Linked DNA regions of Homo sapiens. The protein of the gene in region 1 interacts with the protein of each later gene in a pairwise test. Each region holds a gene or a part of one and is shown on either strand. Other genes may lie near its edges.

Region 1 (9,733 bases):
GCACTCCAGCCTGGGCAACAGAAGCGAAACTCCATCTAAAAAAAAAAGAATTAAATGAACAGATACAAAATGCTTAGAAATGATTAGAAATTATTACTCGTACCCAGTAAGCACTATATAAGATTCAGCTTACAATTATCCACAAATGTGTAAAATAATAAATCTTTCAGAAAAAGAAACAGTATCACATCTGTTTGTCTTATAATATGCATTTATCAGCTTCTCATCTATTAATTAATTTGCTGCATTTTTACTTTTTTTTTTTTGAGACAGGGTCTCACTGTGTTGCCCAGGCTAGAGTATAGTGGCATGATAATGGCTCACTGCAGTCGCAACCTCCCTGGCTCAAGTGATCCTCCAACCTCAACCTCCCGAATAGCTGGGACCGCAGGTGTACACCACCACAGCTGGCTAATGTTTAAATTTTTTTGTAGAGATGGGGTCTCATGGTGTTACCCAGGCTGGTCTTAAACTCCTGGGCTCATGTGATCCTCATGCCTTGGGCTCCGAGAGTGCTGAGATTAAAGTAAAAATGTGGCCACCACACTCAGCCACATTTTTATTTTTAACACATGTAAAATTACTTGTCATAAGTACATGTATATAAACAAGAAATTCATTCACCAAACAACAAATATTTCCTGAATAAAAGGCACTGAAGATGAAACCAGAGAGAAGGGAAGGAAGGGATTCAGAAATGAATTAGACACTATTTCTAACCTTAGGGAGGAGAAATAAGGACAAAGAACTATAATGCAGGCCAATAATCCAGTGTGACAAGAGGCACAGCAATACCACATTCATGCTCATCATCACATGCAAGGAATTCTGTTTGCTACCTGCCCAGCATCTATTCCTACCTGCTGGTTTAGAAACCTTATTTTCCTCAGGGAACCACCCCATCAACTCTCAGTTCCAGTGGTTCAGGGGGTGATGACTTCAATCAGACTCCAGCTTGGGCTGGTAATCAAGCCTGGATGATGAGAGAATTAAATGATCTTCAGTACAGCAACTGGGTTCAATGGTGTATGTGTGACCCAAGACATAGGCCCGTGATTCAATTCTGGGACTTCTGTGCATGCACTAAAGTCAAGTCGGCCAGGCATGGTGGCTCACGCCTGTAATCTCAGCACTTTGGGAGGCTGAGGCAGGTGGATCACCTGAGGTCAGGAGTTCGAGACCAGCCTGACCAACATGGTGAAACCCTGTCTCTACTAAAAATACAAAAATTAGCTGGATGTGGTGGTGCACACCTGTAATCCCAGCTACTGGGGAGGCTGAGGCAGGAGAATCACTTGAACCTGGGAGGTGGAGGTTAAAGTGAGCCAAGATTGCGCCACTGAACTCCAGCTGTGGCAATAGAGTGAGACTCCATCTCAATAAATGAATAAATAAAGTCAAGTTGGCCAGGCATGGTGGATCATGGCTGTAATCCCAACTCTTTGGGAAGCTGAGGCAAGCAAATTGCCTGAGCTCAGGAGTTCCAGGCTGGTCTGGAATTTCTGGAGCGAATCACTGTTCCTGGTAGATTTTTTTTTTTTTTATTGAGCCAACAAAGTCCTTGGTTTTACTTATTCCAGATGGGTTTTCTGTTGCTCACAACTTGAAGGATCTAGAATAAATGAGGAAATAAAAAGTTCTAAATCCCCAATTATTTATTTGGCCTTGATTAAAGTTACAACTAGAGATCAAACTTTTAATAGTAGGAATGGGAGAGAATAAAAATTTCTATTGGCACAATTGCTTTGAGTATACAAAGCACTAAGCTATCCAGTAACCTTTTGTCATAAGAAGGCAAGTTGGAAAGACCCTCAATGACACCAAGAATACAAATATTATTAGCAGGTTGGGGAAATTATTTCATGATTTAAACATTGTGTATCTGATCATCATGAATGGATTTCCGCTTGCTAGAAGTTCTTCTGGTGCATCCTGATTGTTAACTAATGGTTTATGGTTCTACAACTCCTGACTTTGAGCCTATGTACTTGCTACTTGCTTTATTCATTTGTTGTGGGAAACTGAATTTGAACTCACTTATCACCCTTAGAATAGTGAAACCAGGAACTATTATGTAACTTCATTGATCCTGTCATAATTGACTCAACTGGCATAAAAGATCAGATCCTCTTAGAGTTAGGAAAAATACTTTTGTTTTTGCATATATTATGCAAGTAGAAACAATTATAAAATAGTGAGATTTATTTTTACCTTTTTCAATTGACTTCTTTGGTCTTGTCTTCCATTCAACTATATGAAGAATGCAAGACAGGTTATAATCATCCTAACTTTAGGGACAAGAAAAAGGTAAGGAGAGAGAGAGCAGGAATTCAGCGGCAAAACAGAGCAGATTGAATGCAGTGCTTTGGTAATTAACAAGAACTCACATCCTCGCCAGCCTGACCTGGCCTCTCCTCCTTGGCTCTCACCCAGGTGTTGCTCCCTGCATGTAATTGAAAGTAATGAAGCTACATGTGTCTAAACTCTCAATTAATGGTTCTGTGAATTCCAAGTCAATCTGGAAGATGTTAGTGTATTTTATTATTCCTAATGGGACTCCTCTATTAAGTAATTCAAGGTAATTTACATCTTGTATACAGTTAAGTTTCACTGCATTTCCATTGGTGGTAATAAATAACCACTGGAATATATATAATAATCATGGAAGGGCTGGTAGTATTATTCAGCATCCACACTTCACAGCATTTTTGATGTGCTTTGTTTTTCCATGCTATAAGATGTGTGTTATTGTTTGGTATTATGATTACTAAAAGCTGTTTTCATATATCAGATTATGAAAAAGATCAGTCTATTAAACTGACCACATTAAACACAATGTGTGAATAACTTATGCTAATGTGGTAGAGTTGTATTTTAGGAATGCATTTAAGGATGCAATCTCCTAGAAGAAAAAACAATCAGTAAAAAATATGAGGGTGCTTAACCTTACTCTCAGTAAATTGTGCAGTAGTCAATAGCCCCGTAAGAAACTCATGGCCATGGCCGGGCACGGTGGCTCACACCTGTAATCCCAGCACTCTGGGAGGCTGAGGTGGACAGATCACTTGAGTTTGAGAGCAGCCTGACCAACGTGGTGAAACCCTGTCTCTGCCAAACACACACACACACACACACACACACACACACACACACACACACACAAAGAAAAAAAAGAAAAAAAAGAAACTTGTGGCCATCTAATACCAGGTAAGGATTACTCATCTCTATTTCAGTTCTAAAGATGTTCTGAATCCTGAAGCAACGAGAGTTGGTTCTCTTACAACCATTTGGGGCATTTGTGACTTGGAAATGAGGCGGCAGTGCTCACAGGGCATGCTTTAAGAACTTACAGTGGCTGGTTATGCTGTAAGGAAGATAAGAAGAAAACAGGGGAGCAGGCTAACTCCAGATGCCCAGTGGGAAGACGACAGGCCCTTCTCTCACATGATCATGATTCCTTGGTGTTGTGGTTTGGTGATGAGCAGTTTAAAGATACCAAAGATAACTTTAGCTTGAAGCAGTGCTTCTCAAAGTGTGGTCTCTGTTGCATGTAGTGATTCTGGTTCATTGAGATAAATTTACTATTTTTACTCTGGTTCATTAAGATAAATTTACTATTTTTACAAAAAATTTACTATTTTTACTAAATTTTACACAAAATTTACTATTTTTACAATTTTAAAGTGTACAACTCAGTGACATTTACTAAATTTACAATTTTGTGCAACCATCTCCACTATCTCGTTCCAGAACATTTCATCACCCCACAGGAAACTCCCATGCCCATTAAGCAGTTACTTTCCAACACTCCCAACCCCCACACCTGGTGACCACCAATCTGCTTTCTGTCTCTATAGATTCTGGACATTTCATATAAATGGAATCATACAACGTGTGGCCCTTTTTGTCCGTCTTTCACTTAGCACAATGTTTTCAAGTTTCATCCCTGTTGTAACAAGTATCAATACTTCCTTTTTGACCAAATAATATTTTTTGTACCACATTTTATTTATCCATTCATCGGGTGACATGTATATTATTTGTTTCTGTCTTTTGGCTATTGTGAATAGTGCTGCTATGAATACTCATGTACAAGTTTTGGTTTGAACACTTGCTTTTAATTCTTTTGGGTAGAAAGCGTAGGCATTAATCTTTGCTCACTCAAAAGGAGATGACCAAATATCTTAAATTCTTCAATCATTCAACAAATATTTACTGAAAACCTACTCTATAGCTGCTTAGAACGCCAAGCACTGGGAATACATACTGCAGTGAATAAGACAGGCATCATCCCTGTCCTCCTTGGGAATAACACAAAATTCAATAAGTGAGTAACACACAGACTTTACAGCATTTAGGATTAGGAATTCCTTTGCTATTAAGGAAAGTAAAAGCTGGTCACAGAGCACCTGGCAAGATGCTCTAACTGGATGCTTTCGGATGAAACAAGCAAACACAACTAAGCGCAATCACATCTGTCACCTTACATCATAAGCCTCAAGTAGGGAGGTTCCCAAGTGGGTCCAGTCGGCAGCTCAACCTCATCAAGGATCTAGCCTTTCTCTATCCTGCTCTGCCATCCTCATGGCCACGCTAAGGAACAGCCACCCGAGGCATCATGTCTTCTCATGGAACAAAGACCAGGGAACAGAAGGGGGGGAGATCCCTTCTCAATCCCTTGTTAGGTGCAAGAAAAACTTTCCCAGAATACTTCTCAGATCTGTTCTGCCCGATTTGCCCCACAGCCTATTCCTAAGCCAATTACTGGCAAGGAATTGGAATCAGGTGCAATGAATAATGTATGATTAATCAAGTTTGAGGCTGGAAGGGGCCCTCTTCCCCTGGGGAATATGATGCCTGAACAAAATACAGGCTCTGGAAAAATGTAAGAGGGAAAGAACGGCTGTAGGATAGGCAGCCAAGCGTGTCTCCACCGCTGCCTATGCAAAGATTTCCTGGAGGAAGTCCAGTCCGGCGTTCTCTAAGCTCCAGGCCTCAACTGAATATCTCAAAAGAAAACAAATATCCAAACCTCAACGTGTCCCAGACTGAATTAATGATTCCCGTTAAAGTAGTGTCTTCCAGTGGTAACTAATACTATCATTCAGATGCTGGAGCCAGGAAAATAAGAGTCACCGTATCTTCTTCTCCCTCATCACCACCTCTAGCGCATCACCAAGTCTTTGAATCCATCTACTCTCTTCGCCTCCACCGCCACCATCCTAATCCCAGTCACTATCAACTCTTCCCTGGAGCTTTGCAACAATCATGTTTGGCTTCCCAGCATCCATTTGTATTTCCCTCCAAACTATTAGTTCACAGTGCAGGTAGGGTGGCCTTTTCAAACCCAAATCTGCTCATGCTCAAAACTTGCTTCCCACTGCTCTTAGAATAGAGACCACTTTGAGCTTGAATAGGCTGTGCACATCCCACCTCAAGACTGCTGCACTTGCTGTTCCTCCTCCAACCCCTTGTCACCCCTCTCCCTCGGCTTAACTGTCATTTCCCAATTAGGTCAGATCCCTTTGCTGCAGCCCGTAGAGAGCTCTGCGCCTGTCCTTCAGGGCACTTTTTCTCCATCTACAGACTCAGATCTGTGACAACACGGAGCTAGTATTTCCTACAACATAATGCCTGGCACACGGTAAGTGCGCAATATGTAGCTGTTGCACGGCTAAATGTATACATAAGCTTCAAAGCAGAGTGGCCCATAGCAAATACGGTCGCAGTCCCGGGAGAAAGCACACACAGCCGAGACCCCACCGCTTCGTCGGCGCCGCCTGGACCAGCCAGTAGCTCCGCCCCTGGGCCCCGCCCCTCCCTGCTGAGCGAACGGGGCGGGGCCCAGAGGTCGCGTGACGTGACAGCAGCCGGTCGGTGATTGGGTCTCCAGGCGCGCCGTGTCGGAAAGGGGGCGCACCCGCGCGCGCTGACTGGCTGTCTGGCGCAGCGGGGCGGACGGCGGCGGCGCCGCGGGGGCGGGCGCCGGTAGGGGCCGGACAGGGTAGGGCCCGGAGGGCGGTGGCGGCGGAGCGGGCGGCATGGGTCCTGGCCGCCGGCTTCGCTGAGACGCGCTCGCGTGGGCTGCCCTCCCGGGCCCGCAGTGGTCGCGGCGGCATGAAGGGCGCTCTGGGGAGTCCCGTGGCTGCCGCTGGCGCCGCGATGCAGGAGAGTTTCGGCTGCGTGGTGGCCAACCGCTTCCATCAGCTGCTGGACGACGAGTCGGACCCGTTCGACATCCTGCGCGAGGCCGAGCGCCGGCGCCAGCAGCAGCTGCAGCGCAAGAGGCGCGACGAGGCGGCGGCGGCGGCCGGGGCCGGTCCCCGCGGCGGCAGGAGCCCAGCCGGGGCCTCGGGCCACAGAGCCGGCGCGGGCGGCCGGAGGGAGTCGCAGAAGGAGCGCAAGAGCCTCCCGGCGCCCGTCGCTCAGCGGCCCGATAGCCCCGGGGGCGGCCTGCAGGCGCCGGGTACGCGGGGACAGCGGGGTTAGCGGACCACGGCTCGGCCCGCTGTGAGACTGGGGTCCCGGGGGCCGGTTTCAGGAGGAGGGGCCCGGGAACAGTAGGGAGAGTTGAGGGTCCTGGTGGCCGCCGAAGGTAGGAGGAGAGGGGCAGGGGTCACACCCCTTCCAGCTCTCGCCAGCCTCGTGCGGGGCTCCGGGGGAAACGCTGGCTTGGGGTGGGATAGGGCCCTCGAACCCTGGCACTGAGGCTCTACGGCAAGTTGGACGAAGTTGAGGGAGGTTGTCTGGGTGGCGTGTGGGGGCGAACGGCTGAGGTCGCTACCCCGGGGCTCCCACATCCAGACCTGGCGGGGACCTTCATCTTCCAGCCCAGCCTCTGCAAGATTGAGGTCGGAGCCACCCGAGAGCGCGGTGGGGAGGAGGAGGGCGCCTGGTCCCGGGGCTGGGGGCCTCTGTGATGCCGGAGGCCTGGGCGACCGCGGGGCGGCCTGTGACGTCGGGGCCCGGGCGGGGGTCCCCGGCGCGGTCCGGCCTGGCGCCTTCGCCCCTTCTCCGTCCGGTAGCTTCCAGGAGGCAGCCGGCATCGTATTTCAGTACTTCGTGTGGTGTTGATGGGATGTGCAACTTATAAATAGCTCAAGGCTGCTTTAAGAAAAGCGTTTTTAACCTTTCCAGCAAGAATATTCGGAGTTCCCCACTCCCTATTTAGCAAGAAAAACCGGTGCGCAGCGTGGTGTCCTGCTGCCTGTGGACGGGGAGGGTGCTTCAGAGTTCATTCTCTCACCGAACTGCGTCAGTGGCAGAGCCAGCAACACTCCACCTGTGTTTCCTGTTTTCTTGAAATGAGGCAGCGGTCCCAAGGTTTGCAGAGTGTTAGGATTAAGATGTGTAGGTTGACCATTCCTGCCGACGTTTGCCAGTGTGTTCAACTTGGCTTTATTGGTTTGTTCCTTGCTTGATAAAAATTGTGCATCGCAGCCCTGAGGAAACGTCTCAGGTTTAAGTATTAGGGCTTTGATGTGCAGCTGGGTAATGTTTACCTTTATTTGTGAAAAGCTAAATCCAGAGTCATCACTTGAGAATCAAGTCACTACAATAAAGATGTTGAAAATGATTTTTAAAAAAATGTTATTTACTATCTCACGACACTTTGGTAGGCCAGTAAATTTCTGAGCCTATCTAAACAGTGAGACTGGAGATACATTGTGCATTTTATATCCTGTTTTTTATCTTTTTCTCTTAAACTTATTTACATCAATATAATAAAGGAATTGAGGAAGGCTAAGCTTTTCTTCACCCTTTATTTTTTAACAAATGAAAATGCCGGGTGTGGTGGCTCACGCCTGTAATCCCAGCAGTTTGGGAGTCCGAGGCGGGCGGATCACGAGGTTAGGAGATCGAGACCATCCTGGCTAACACGGTGAAATCCCGTCTCTATTACAAATACAAAAAATTAGTCGGGCGTGGTGGCGGGCACCTGTAGGTCCAGCTACTCGGGAGGCTGAGGCAGGAGAATGGCGTGAACCCAGGAGGCGGAGCTTGCAGTGAGCCGAGATCGAGCCACTGTACTCCAGTCTGGGAGAAAGAGCGAGACTCCGTCACAAAAAAAAAAAAAAAAAAATTCTGTGCTTCAGAAAAACGTGAGACGAGTTAGTGCTGTTAATACATTGATTTTTAGCCTTTTTAAAATTGTCATGCATTTTTGTGTTAAGAATTTTAAGCAATTCCAAAATGTATGAGGTTAAGTGAAAATCCTCTTATTTTTCCTACTAACACTTTGCATTTATATACATAAATGCACAGAGCTATTTCTTTTCTTTCTAAACTTAAATGATATAAACTGGGTTGCAACCTGTTTCCTGCACTTGATGTTGTCATGTAGTACACTCGTAACTTTTTTTTTCTGTCAGTTGTTAGGTCTAAGTGATCTGGCTTTTGAAATCAACTAAAGGTATTTAGTTGATTTTGTAGTTAGAACGGAAATTTTATCATTCAAGTTCTTTTTCAAGTATGTGTTATTTCAGGAGCAAACAGCTCATTAATTTCCATTTATGTAGTTACTGTACTAAATTTATCTATAATGGGTGTCAAGGAGCTATTCTCTCAAGGTTTTGTAACCCTAGTTGATAAGAAGCACTGTACTTTTCTAACATTCAAAATTTTTTATCTAGTTAGAATGTTGTAAGTGAATGCTTAGTGTAGACAAAAATAAAACATGTTTGACATATCATAGAAATGTTAATCCTGAAAGAATGTGGAAGTCACAAGCTTTTCCTATGGAAAAGGGTTTTTTTTTTTTTTTTTTTTTTTTTTTGAGACAGAGTCTTTTTTTTTGAGACAGGCTGGAGTGCAGTGGCATGATCTCGGTTCACTGCAACCTCTACCTCCTGGGTTCAAGCGATTCTCCTGCCTCAGCCTCCTTAGTAGCTGGCATTACAGGCATCTGCCACCATGCCCGGCTAATTTTTTTTTTTTTTTTTTTTTTGAGACAGAGTGCAGTGGCGGGATCTTGACTCACTGCAACCTCTGCCTCCCCGGTTCAAGCGATTCTCCTGCCTCAGCCTCCTGGGTAGCTGGGACTACAGGCATGCGCCACCATGCCCAGCTAATTTTTGTATATTTTTTAGTAGAGGCATGGGTTCACTATGTTCATGTTGGCCAGGATGGTCTCGATCTCTTGACCTCATGATCTGCTTGCCTTGGCCTCCCAAAGTGCTGGGATTACAGGTGTGAGCTACTGTGCCTGGCCTAATTTTTTATATTTTTAATAGAGATGGGGTTTCACCATGTTGTCCAGGCTGGTCTTGAACTCCTGACCTCAGGTGATCCGCCCGCCTCAGCCTCCCAAAGTGCTGGGATTACAGGCGTGAGCCATGATGCCTGGCCAAAAATGTAGGTTTTTAATGTCTGACTATCTGTCTAGCAATATGTATATAAACCCTTGGGTGAGCCTTGCTCAATAAGTTCATTCTTAAAGTCATGAGAGGCCGTTTCAGTTTTGCTTTTCCTAGCCTTTCAGAATTATGTTCTTTGAAACAAAGGTCAATTTTATTTTGTGGAAAATCTTACTGTAAATTTTATTGTATTCTGTTTCTTTACCTGGGCTTGGTTTAGATGATGATGAATGCATGTGCCAGCCTTTTCTTGGCGAGGTTAGTGAAATGCAGTGCTTGCATTCTCCACTTGGAGCTGCTGATCCAGCACAGAAAAACAAGCCCAATTCATGGCAGTGTTGATCTCTTAGTACTAAATTGTGGGGAAAAAATTGGAT
Region 2 (9,176 bases), on another chromosome or scaffold:
GCACTCCAGCTTTGGGCAACAAGAACAAAACTCCATCTCAAAAAAAAAAAAAAAAAAAAAGTCATATCTGAATCATTGAGACTTATGATATGAAGGTCATATAGGAGCAAGATGTCATCTAGATGAACAGCCATTCTTCACCCAGATTATCCTTAGTTTTTGTTTTCCTTGTTATTGTTATTCTGCTATTGTGTTGGTATTGCCAACTAGCAGGTTAGTAGAACCACATAGACATTATATTGAGCCAGAGGTTTAATCTGTGATTTTACATTTCAACTTAGAGTGATCTAAAAATCAGTGCCGAGATTTGACCATTAGCATTGAGGAATGTTTATAGTCCTTTACTAAGATATTAATGTAGTCAGCTGTCTGAAGTCAGTTCGGTGACCCCCAGCTTAAAAGTTAGCATTAACCCTCTGTCTGCCCGCCTCTTACTATTGCCTTTCTTTTCTCCATTTTGTTCTTTCATGACTGCTTTTCCTTTTACATTTTGTCCTTCTTAATTTAATTTAATGTTCACTGATGTGATTGCAGATTTGGAAGCAAAAAGCTCAGTATCTGCAGCACAAACAGAACAAAGCAGAAGCCACAACTGTGAAAAGGAAAGCATCCAGCTCAGAAGGTTCCATGAAAGTCAAAGGTAGTGACCACATCCCGCCCCTGCTTTTCTCTAAAGCATGTGAATTTTGCTTCCTTGCTAAGAAACTGGGAAAAAAGCTTGCAGTATTAGAAGTGGACCTTGATTCCCAGGTATTATTACCTGGGAATGTTACAAGCTACCAAAAAGAGATGTTCAAATTTAGAAAATGCAAATCAGAAGTCAGCAAACTTTTTCTTTAAAGGTCCAGAGAGTAGACCAGGCGCAGTGGCTCATGCCTGTAATCCTAGCACTTTGGGAGGCCAAGGTGGGCGGATCACCTGAGGTCAGGAGTTCGACACCAGCCTAACCAACATGGAGAAACCCCGTCTCTACTGAAAATACAAAATTAGCCGGGCGTGGTGGCGCATACCTGTAATCCCAGCTACCAGAGAGGCTGAGGCAGGAGAATTGCTTGAACCCGGGAGGTGGAGGTTGCGGTGAGCCGAGATCGTGCCATGGCACTCCAGCCTGGGCAACAAGAGCAAAACTCCATCTCAAAAAAAAAAAGGTCCAGAGAGTAAATATTATAGGCCTTGTGTGCCGTATGCATTCTCGCATTCTCTGTCACATATTCTTTGTTTTTCTATAGCCCTTTAAGAATGTAAAACTATTCCTAACTCACAGGCCATAAAAAACAAGAGACCATAGACTGAATTTAGCCCACAGGCCACAGTTTTGCTAATGCCTGGTATAATTCATAAAAAGGGAAAATCAGGAAGAACAACTTTGTGTTGTTCAAGGCTGTAGGCAAGTTTTACCTGTCTGCCTCATTGCTCTGTTCTCAGCCTCTTCTGTAGGAGTACTGTCACCCCAGAAGAAGTCCCCACCCACCACCATGCTGTTACCAGCCTCACCAGCCAAAGCCCCTGAGACAGAGCCCATTGATGTTGCTGCTCATCTTCAGCTGTTGGGAGAGTCCCTAAGCCTCATTGGACACCGTCTGCAGGAAACTGAGGTGAATACAACTATCAGCAGCATGACTACAGTTTCCCATATAGTTTCCCATATAATTTTGATTCATTCACTCATTTTACATACATGTATTGAGCATCTACTTTATGCTAAATTATGCCAGGTTCTCAGGATGGCGTAACATAGAAGATATAATGATAATAACAGAAATATCTATAGAGATATTCAGTCTACCTGTTAGCTCTCAAAGTTTCACTAATGATATCCTATTGAAACAATGGCACAAAAAGAAATTGGAGTACCCTGTAACTTATTTTTATTTTTTTAAAATGCAGTGGAGGCTGGGCGCAGTGGCTCACGCCTGTAATGCTAATTTGGGAGGCCCACCTGGGAGAATCGCTTAAGGCCAAGAGTTCGAGACTAGCCTGGTCAACACAGTGAGACTCCATCTCAAAAAATACATATATTCAAAAAATTTAAAAGAAATAAAAATGGGGCCGGGCGTGGTGGCTTATGCCTGTAATCCCAGCACTTTGGGAGGCTGAGGCAGGCGGATCACGAGGTCAGGAGTTCAAGACCAGCCTGGCCAATATGGTGAAACCCTGTCTCTACTAAAAATACAAAAATTAGCCAGGTGTGGTGGCATGCACCTGTGGTCCCAGCTACTCGGGAGGCTGAGGCAAGAGAATCACTTGAACCTGGGAGGCAGAGGTTGCAGTGAGTCAAGATTGCGCTACTGTACTCCAGCCTGGGCGATAGAGCAAGACTCCATCACAAAAAAGAAAGAAAGAAAGAAAGAAAAACGCAGTGGTGGCTGGGCACGGTGGCCCATGTCTGTAATCCCAGCAATTTGGGAGACCAAGGCAGGAGGATCGCTTGAGGCCAGGAGTTGGAGAGCAGCCTGGGCAACATAGCGAGACCCCATTTCTACAAAAAATTAAAAAATTAGCCAGGCATGGTGGTGCACACCTGTAGTCCCAGCTACTCGGAAGGCTGAGGCAGATGGATTGCTTGAGCCCAGGAGCTCAAAGGCTGCAGTAAGCTATGATTGCTGCACTGCCCTCCAGCCTGGGTGACAGAGCAAGACCCTATCTTTTTTAAAAAAACAAAAACAAAAAGGCAAGAAAAAGGATGAGTACAAATTCCATAGCAGTTTTGATTACTTCTGTCTCCTTCTAAGAGACTTTGAATTTTTCTCTGCATTTCCAGCAAAGTCTTGAATATTCAATTGTATAGGAGATTAAGAGTTCCTCTGTTTTGAAAATAGGTAACAAATGGAGAAGTTAAGGTTCCCAGCTCTCCATTACTCTGCACTTAAATTATACAGTGCTATATGCCCTGGGGAGATTTTTGTCCTTTTAAGCTTCAATTTCAAAAATCACTTAACCTGCACAGCTGTCGTGTTTCATTTCTATTACCATATTCAATTTCTAACAATATTGTCCCCTTAGCTAACTCATTAGTATAGTAGTTCCGCTTTCCACCAAGTTCTAGTAAGACATTTCAGCAAAGAAGTCAGTCTAAGCTACTAAAGCCATTTTTAAGCTAAGAAATTAGTGTAGGAATGTAAAACTAATCACTTGCTTCAATGTGGAAATTGAATTATTCAACAAATAAAATGCCAAAGGCCACAAGAGCTGAAGCTATATCTAAATTCTTTGGCTAGTTTCTAAAAATTTTAGCAGTAGTCAAAAGAACTTCAGCACCTTCATATAGGCTCGATATCTGAATGGATATAGATATTTCCAGAAGAAGTATTCTATGACCTTACTTATTTTTCAGATTTAATCATTCTTACGTTTCGTAAGAAGTTAGAAGTAAAAACAGTTTGTTTTAAGCGTATTCTGAATTTTCCCAGATATTTCCATTTAGTTTAGTAAGTACAAAGTTCACCCTTTTAAAGTGCAGAATTTAGTGATTTTTAATATATTCACAGAATTGTGAATCACTACTATTTCATTCCAAAACATATTGTTACCCCTAAAAGAAACCCTGTACCAGCCAGGCGCGGTGGCTCACGCCTGTAATCCCAGCACTTTGGGAGGCCGAGGCAGGCAGATCATGAGGTCAGGAGATCGAGACCATCCTGGCAAACGTGGTGAAACCCCATCTCTACTAAAAATACAAAAAATTAGCTGGGCGTGGTGGCGGGCGCCTGTGAGAGGCTGAGGCAGGAGAATGGCGTGAACCCAGGAGGCGGAGCTTGCAGTGAGCCGAGATTGCGCCACTGCACTCCAGCCTGGGCGACGGAGCGAGACTCCGCCTCAAAAAAAAAAAAAAAAAAAAAAAGAAACCCTGTACCCATTGGCAGTTATTCCCCATTCTCCCTCTAATCCACTTTTGGCCCGAATTTAATCATTTGCATAGATCTCTGCAATTTTATAATTTCCACATACCACTTAATACTTTTACTTACTTTATAATTTTATTTAAATAAACTTGTCTGTGCTTTTACAGTGACATTCATGACATCTCAAGGGTTATATTCTATTTTTTTAATGTACATCGTAATGGACATATAATTATCAAAATAATATGTTCAGTAGTAAATTAATGTTCATCATTTTAGCAGTAAAACTGGAACATACAATGCATAAGTTAGAAAATTAAGGCTAGAGGCCGAGCACTGTTGCTTGTTCCTGTAATCCCAGGACTCTGGGAGCCAAAGTGGGAGGATCACCTGAGGCTAGCAGTTCGAGACCAGCCTGGCCAACATGGCAAAACCCCATCTCTACTAAAAATACAAAAATTAGCCAGTTGTGGTGGTGCACACCTGTAATCCTAGCTACTTGTGGGGCTAAGGCAGGAGAATCGCTTGAACCGGGAGGTGGAGGTTGCAGTGAGCCGAGATCACACCACTGCACTCCATCCAGCCTGGGCAACAGAGTGAGACCCTGTCTCAAAAAAAATAAAAATAAAAATTGTGCGTGTGTGTGGCGTGTGGTGTGTGTGTATCTTAAGAAAGTTAAAGCTAGAACCCAAATTGCAGAGGGACTTCATAGACATTCTGAAGTGTGTATACTTCACTGTTGGGGAACTACAGGGGTTTTTACAGTGGAAAGGGATGAGATCAGAGCTCTCATTTACTTTTCTCTGAGAATATCTTTTATTTTAGATTGGAAGTGAAAAGAGACCAGAATTGGGGAGAAGTTAAAACAATAATCCTAGTCTAGATGTGACAAAGATAAATTAGCTATAAATAAATATAGGGCAAAGGAAATGGAACAATATTACTAATTACTGACATTTTTGGGGTTTTAGCTATTATCTTCCCTGTATACTAATGTTTTATTGAAGGCTCACTCACCCAGCTTTGGTTCAGAGTGCTTAATATGAATTATATCATTTAATTCACACTGCAGCTTTGTGAGGCAGAATTTGTTCCCCCCATTTTACAGAAGAATAAACAGACTTAAAGAGGTGAAGTCACTTTCTCTAGAGTTTAGCCCCTAAGTGGTAAAATAGAGACTTGAATTTGGAATGTGACCTCAAGGTCCGGGTTCTTAACCTCTTACTGTACTGCTGCCCTCAGAAAGTATAGGGGGGAGATGTTGACAAGGAGGATGAGGGAAAGGAAGAGTCAGTGATGGCTAGGCCTTGAGACTGGGCAGTTATGTGAATGGTGGTGACTTTGGCAGAGAAATGGATGCTCAAAGGAGGGCTAGATTTGCATGGGAAGGTTATTCTTCCTTACAGGAAGTTGAGATGGAGAAATATCCAAAAGGAGAGACCCAAAAGACAGCCAGAAATGCAGTTTTGAAGATCAAGATGTTGGTAGTAATATTCATAATTACTGATATTTTTTGAGTACTTAACCATGTATTAAGCACCATCCCAAGTATATTATATCTATTATCTCAATCCCATCTGCTGCAGATGCTGTTAGTATCTTACAGGCACAGCATAGTAAGCAACTTGCCTAGGTACAAAACAGTGAGTAGTGGAGCCAGGATCTGGACCCGGGCAGTCTTGAATCCGGAGCTCATTTTCTTAAGGACTGTGCTGTGTTGCTTCCCAATATGACATATTCTCACACTGCTTCTAGTTAAAGCAGATTATACAAGAACTCGGCAGCAGCAACAGTCTTTCTTATCTCTTTGAATCACAAATAGACAATATGAATTACATAAAATGTTAAAATTTGAACCAAATTCACTTTGAGAGTGAACAACTCAACCTAGAAAAATTGTATAATCAGCTATCAAAAGCTACATACATGCAGGGTTGTAGGATTCTCATAGTAATCACATCTGAGCTATATTTGTCGAGTTTATAACAGATATACTTTGCATACATAATCACAAATCTTACCAACAGCTCTCCAGAGTAGGTAAAGCATTTTTTACTGTTCCTGTTAAGGAGACAGAAGTTAAGGATGTGAACTCCCCAAGGTCACTCAGAAGGTAAGAAGATGGGCTAGGATTACGGAAAGGGAACATGGGAATGTGCTGTAAAAGTTTTCTTTCTAAACAACTTACAGAGTTATCAAAGTAAACTTTCCATTTCTGCTGTAAAGTTTCAAATTATAAGAGTAGAACTGCCTAGGATTTAAAGTACTGTGTGAGGAAGTCAGCCGGAACACAGCATCAGGAGTGTGACTCAAGCAACAACCTCCTCTCCTTTTCAGGGTATGGTGGCTGTGTCTGGCAGTTTGTCAGTGCTTCTGGATTCCATTATCTGTGCCCTTGGCCCCTTGGCATGTCTCACCACACAACTACCTGAATTGAATGGCTGTCCCAAACAGGTCTTGGTGAGTTTTCCCTGGATTTTTAGAGTCAGATCCATTGGGCGTCAGAGATGCCCTGCCTTAATGAGCACTGTCAGACACACATAAGGCTTTGTGACACACAGTGCTTCCTTCATCTGTTGGCCCATGGAACATGATGCTATATTATCAAATGCATGCTGTACTTTCACTGAAACTAGAAAACAAGCCATTTACCAAAACAGTACTTAAGAAAGCAGCATTCTAGCCCTTGAGGTACTACAATTCCTGTGTTTCCTGTTTGCTATTCTGCACCCAAAGACAGTACAGGAATTGTTTCCCTCTTTTTTACGAGGATTAATGGGAGAAGTCAGCAGAAAAGTTCCTAGCATAACAAACAGCAGGATGCCGTCTTCATTCTCACCTGTTTTTCTAACTCCATTTGATTTTTCTTATCTCTCTCCTTGAACAAAGAAACATCTCTCAGGAAACCAAGGTACAGTACTCTTCAGTTGAACATTTTTCTTTGTTTTGCAGTCAAACACATTAGACAACATTGCTTACATCATGCCGGGACTGTGACAGCAAAGAATCCTGGGACAGAAACCTTATCCTACACCATTGCTGGTTTGTGTATATATGACTGTTGCAGATTCCTTCAGTGGCCTCTGGCTGTAGGTTTTAAATTTTTATATCTATACATACATATATACATATATATATAATGTACAATATATACATAGACTGTAACTACTTTGCTTTTAATAATTTTATGAAATGGCAAAGGTTTAGCCAAGAGGAAATTTTGGCATGAATACAGGCTTGGGATTCTTTTTTCTCCTGTGGTGGATAAATCTGCCTTAAAAATCAATGTAACTTGGGGGCTGGGGGCTTGTTCTGGGTGCCAAGCGCATCTCTTTATGGACAGCTAAAATGTGATTATTTTCCAAGCTCAGTTGGACCTCCAGACCCATCACTGACCATTTGCCTTACCTGTCTTAGTCTGAAATGTAATAGGAAAGATAACGGGAAGATGCCAGTTGACTGAAAATTCAAAGCCTTTCAATTTGAAGTGACCTAGGTGGGAGGTGATAAAATTTGTTCCCTTTATAGTTATGGAAGTGGCTTAGGTGAATTGAGTAGAGGGTTCATTCCAATTCCTACTGTATAGGTGTCTGTGTCTCAAAATTTATTGTAATCATTGGTACCATTGGTGGCCTCAACAGAGGCCAAGGAGTTCTGTGAGCCCTGGCAGCAAAAAACACCTTGGGGGGTGAAGCTGTCAATGCCACCAGTTGGACCTCCATACATTCTGAGCTAACCCAGAATCTTTAGTCGGCAGAATTAAGTGCTGGTGTCTTTCACTGGCAGCATGAAGTTAGCCACCAAGTCCTCACAAGCCGTGCTGCTTAGTTGCTCGGTGGTTATGGATAAACTTTGCCCAGCATGATTTTTGGGTTCATCTTATCAGTTCCCCTGGTGGGCAGATACACAGTGTTCTGCATTCCACATGTAAGTGAATTGCAAAAACAAAACAAAACTCACTCTCTTGTAGGTTTATTTATGTGTGTGTGAATGTGTATTTTAATTATGTGTATTTAACTCTTTAAAATCTCTTAGATTTTAATTTATCCTGTAAATTTCTGTATATATAATTTAATAACAGAAGCCTCCACCAGCAACAGCATGTGGAAGATACAGATTTGTCATTTCTCCCTTCCGCCCTCCCTTCTTTCCTTCCTTCCTTCCCTGTTTCCTTCCCTCTTTCCTTCCTTCCTCCTGGTCTGTTCCAAAAACTCTGAATCATCTACATTTTAAGGTATTTTACCTCAAAAATGAATCATTGTGTTAGGATTCTAATTCTTTATAAAGAACTTCATGGGCTTCAATAATGTCTAGAAAGTAAAATAAAGAGGAATGTTACCATCCCCAGCTGCCCTTATTTCCAGAGAACCAGACGTTTGTTTCCCAGTTGGAAAGAAGACAGTTGAGCACTTCAGGATGGTTTTTAAATTTGGTATGAGATTCTCTGCCAACACCAAGCTCTGAGTTAACTGTGCTTTCTTCTCCTGGCCCTGACAGAGCACTACAGCATCAAAGTAAATCTTTGGGGACAGTGTAGCCCATCTGCATCCTATTTAATTTCTTCCCTTCTCCCCACCAGTGTTGTCACAGGGCTATGTTGCTTAAAGGTAGTCTGGCTGCTGAATCCCTTTCTCAGCTCAGAGCAGTTTTAAGATTTAATTGGGAATACAGAGAAACAGGATTGTTTGAGAACCAAAATCAAGAGGAACAGAAATCTTAACTTGATTTCATGTGTTAGAACATTGTACCATGCCTCTTCTGTATCTGTGGAAGTTTCCTGTTTGACACAGGGTATCTAGGAGGGGCGGGGAAGACATGGATAGTATAGGAAGACATTAATCCTAGCATTGTCATTTATATACATTAATGAAATCCTGATGAGGACCTGCTTTTTGTTTGTTTTCCTTTGAAACCCAGCCCTATTGTATTTGTATTTAAAATTTGTACACATTTGTATAATAATCTGTACCTTGTGGTATTTGGTACTATTAGAGGAAAAACTTTGGATTCAGACCTTCTTGCAGTTTTTATATCATTGTTTTATTTTGTTTTTTAAATAAATTCTAGTGGTTTGATCCAAATCCCATTACAGTTGTATAAAGAAATAAAATTTTGTACTTATATTATTAAAAATCACATTTTTAATATTTGTAGTCCAGTCTCAGCTGTCTTTTCCCTAATCATGATCATCATAGTTGCTATGAAATTATAAAACCTGTTTTTCACTCTATTCTACCATAATTTTCTTAAGAAAAAAATCAACCCACAATGGAGATTAAATTTCTAATCTTAGCCATTTTCTTAATATACTCCTTACTCTGCTTCTATTAACTT

Evidence for each region.
Region 2: the proteins of HABP4 (region 1) and HMGXB4 interact in a two-hybrid assay, tested with the Homo sapiens proteins (one study listed by BioGRID).

What each region holds. Positions count from the first base shown.
Region 1 is NC_000009.12:96,444,163-96,453,895, forward strand, and holds the start of HABP4 (intracellular hyaluronan-binding protein 4), read left to right. Parts: upstream 1-6,006; 5' UTR 6,007-6,117; coding exon 6,118-6,466; intron 6,467-7,026; exon of another isoform or gene 7,027-7,304; coding exon of another isoform or gene 7,305-7,323; intron 7,324-9,733. UniProt on the Homo sapiens protein: Ribosome-binding protein that promotes ribosome hibernation, a process during which ribosomes are stabilized in an inactive state and preserved from proteasomal degradation.
Region 2 is NC_000022.11:35,286,813-35,295,988, forward strand, and holds the end of HMGXB4 (HMG domain-containing protein 4), read left to right. Parts: intron 1-534; coding exon 535-640; intron 641-1,425; coding exon 1,426-1,595; intron 1,596-6,179; coding exon 6,180-6,302; intron 6,303-6,794; coding exon 6,795-6,839; 3' UTR 6,840-8,995; downstream 8,996-9,176. UniProt on the Homo sapiens protein: Negatively regulates Wnt/beta-catenin signaling during development.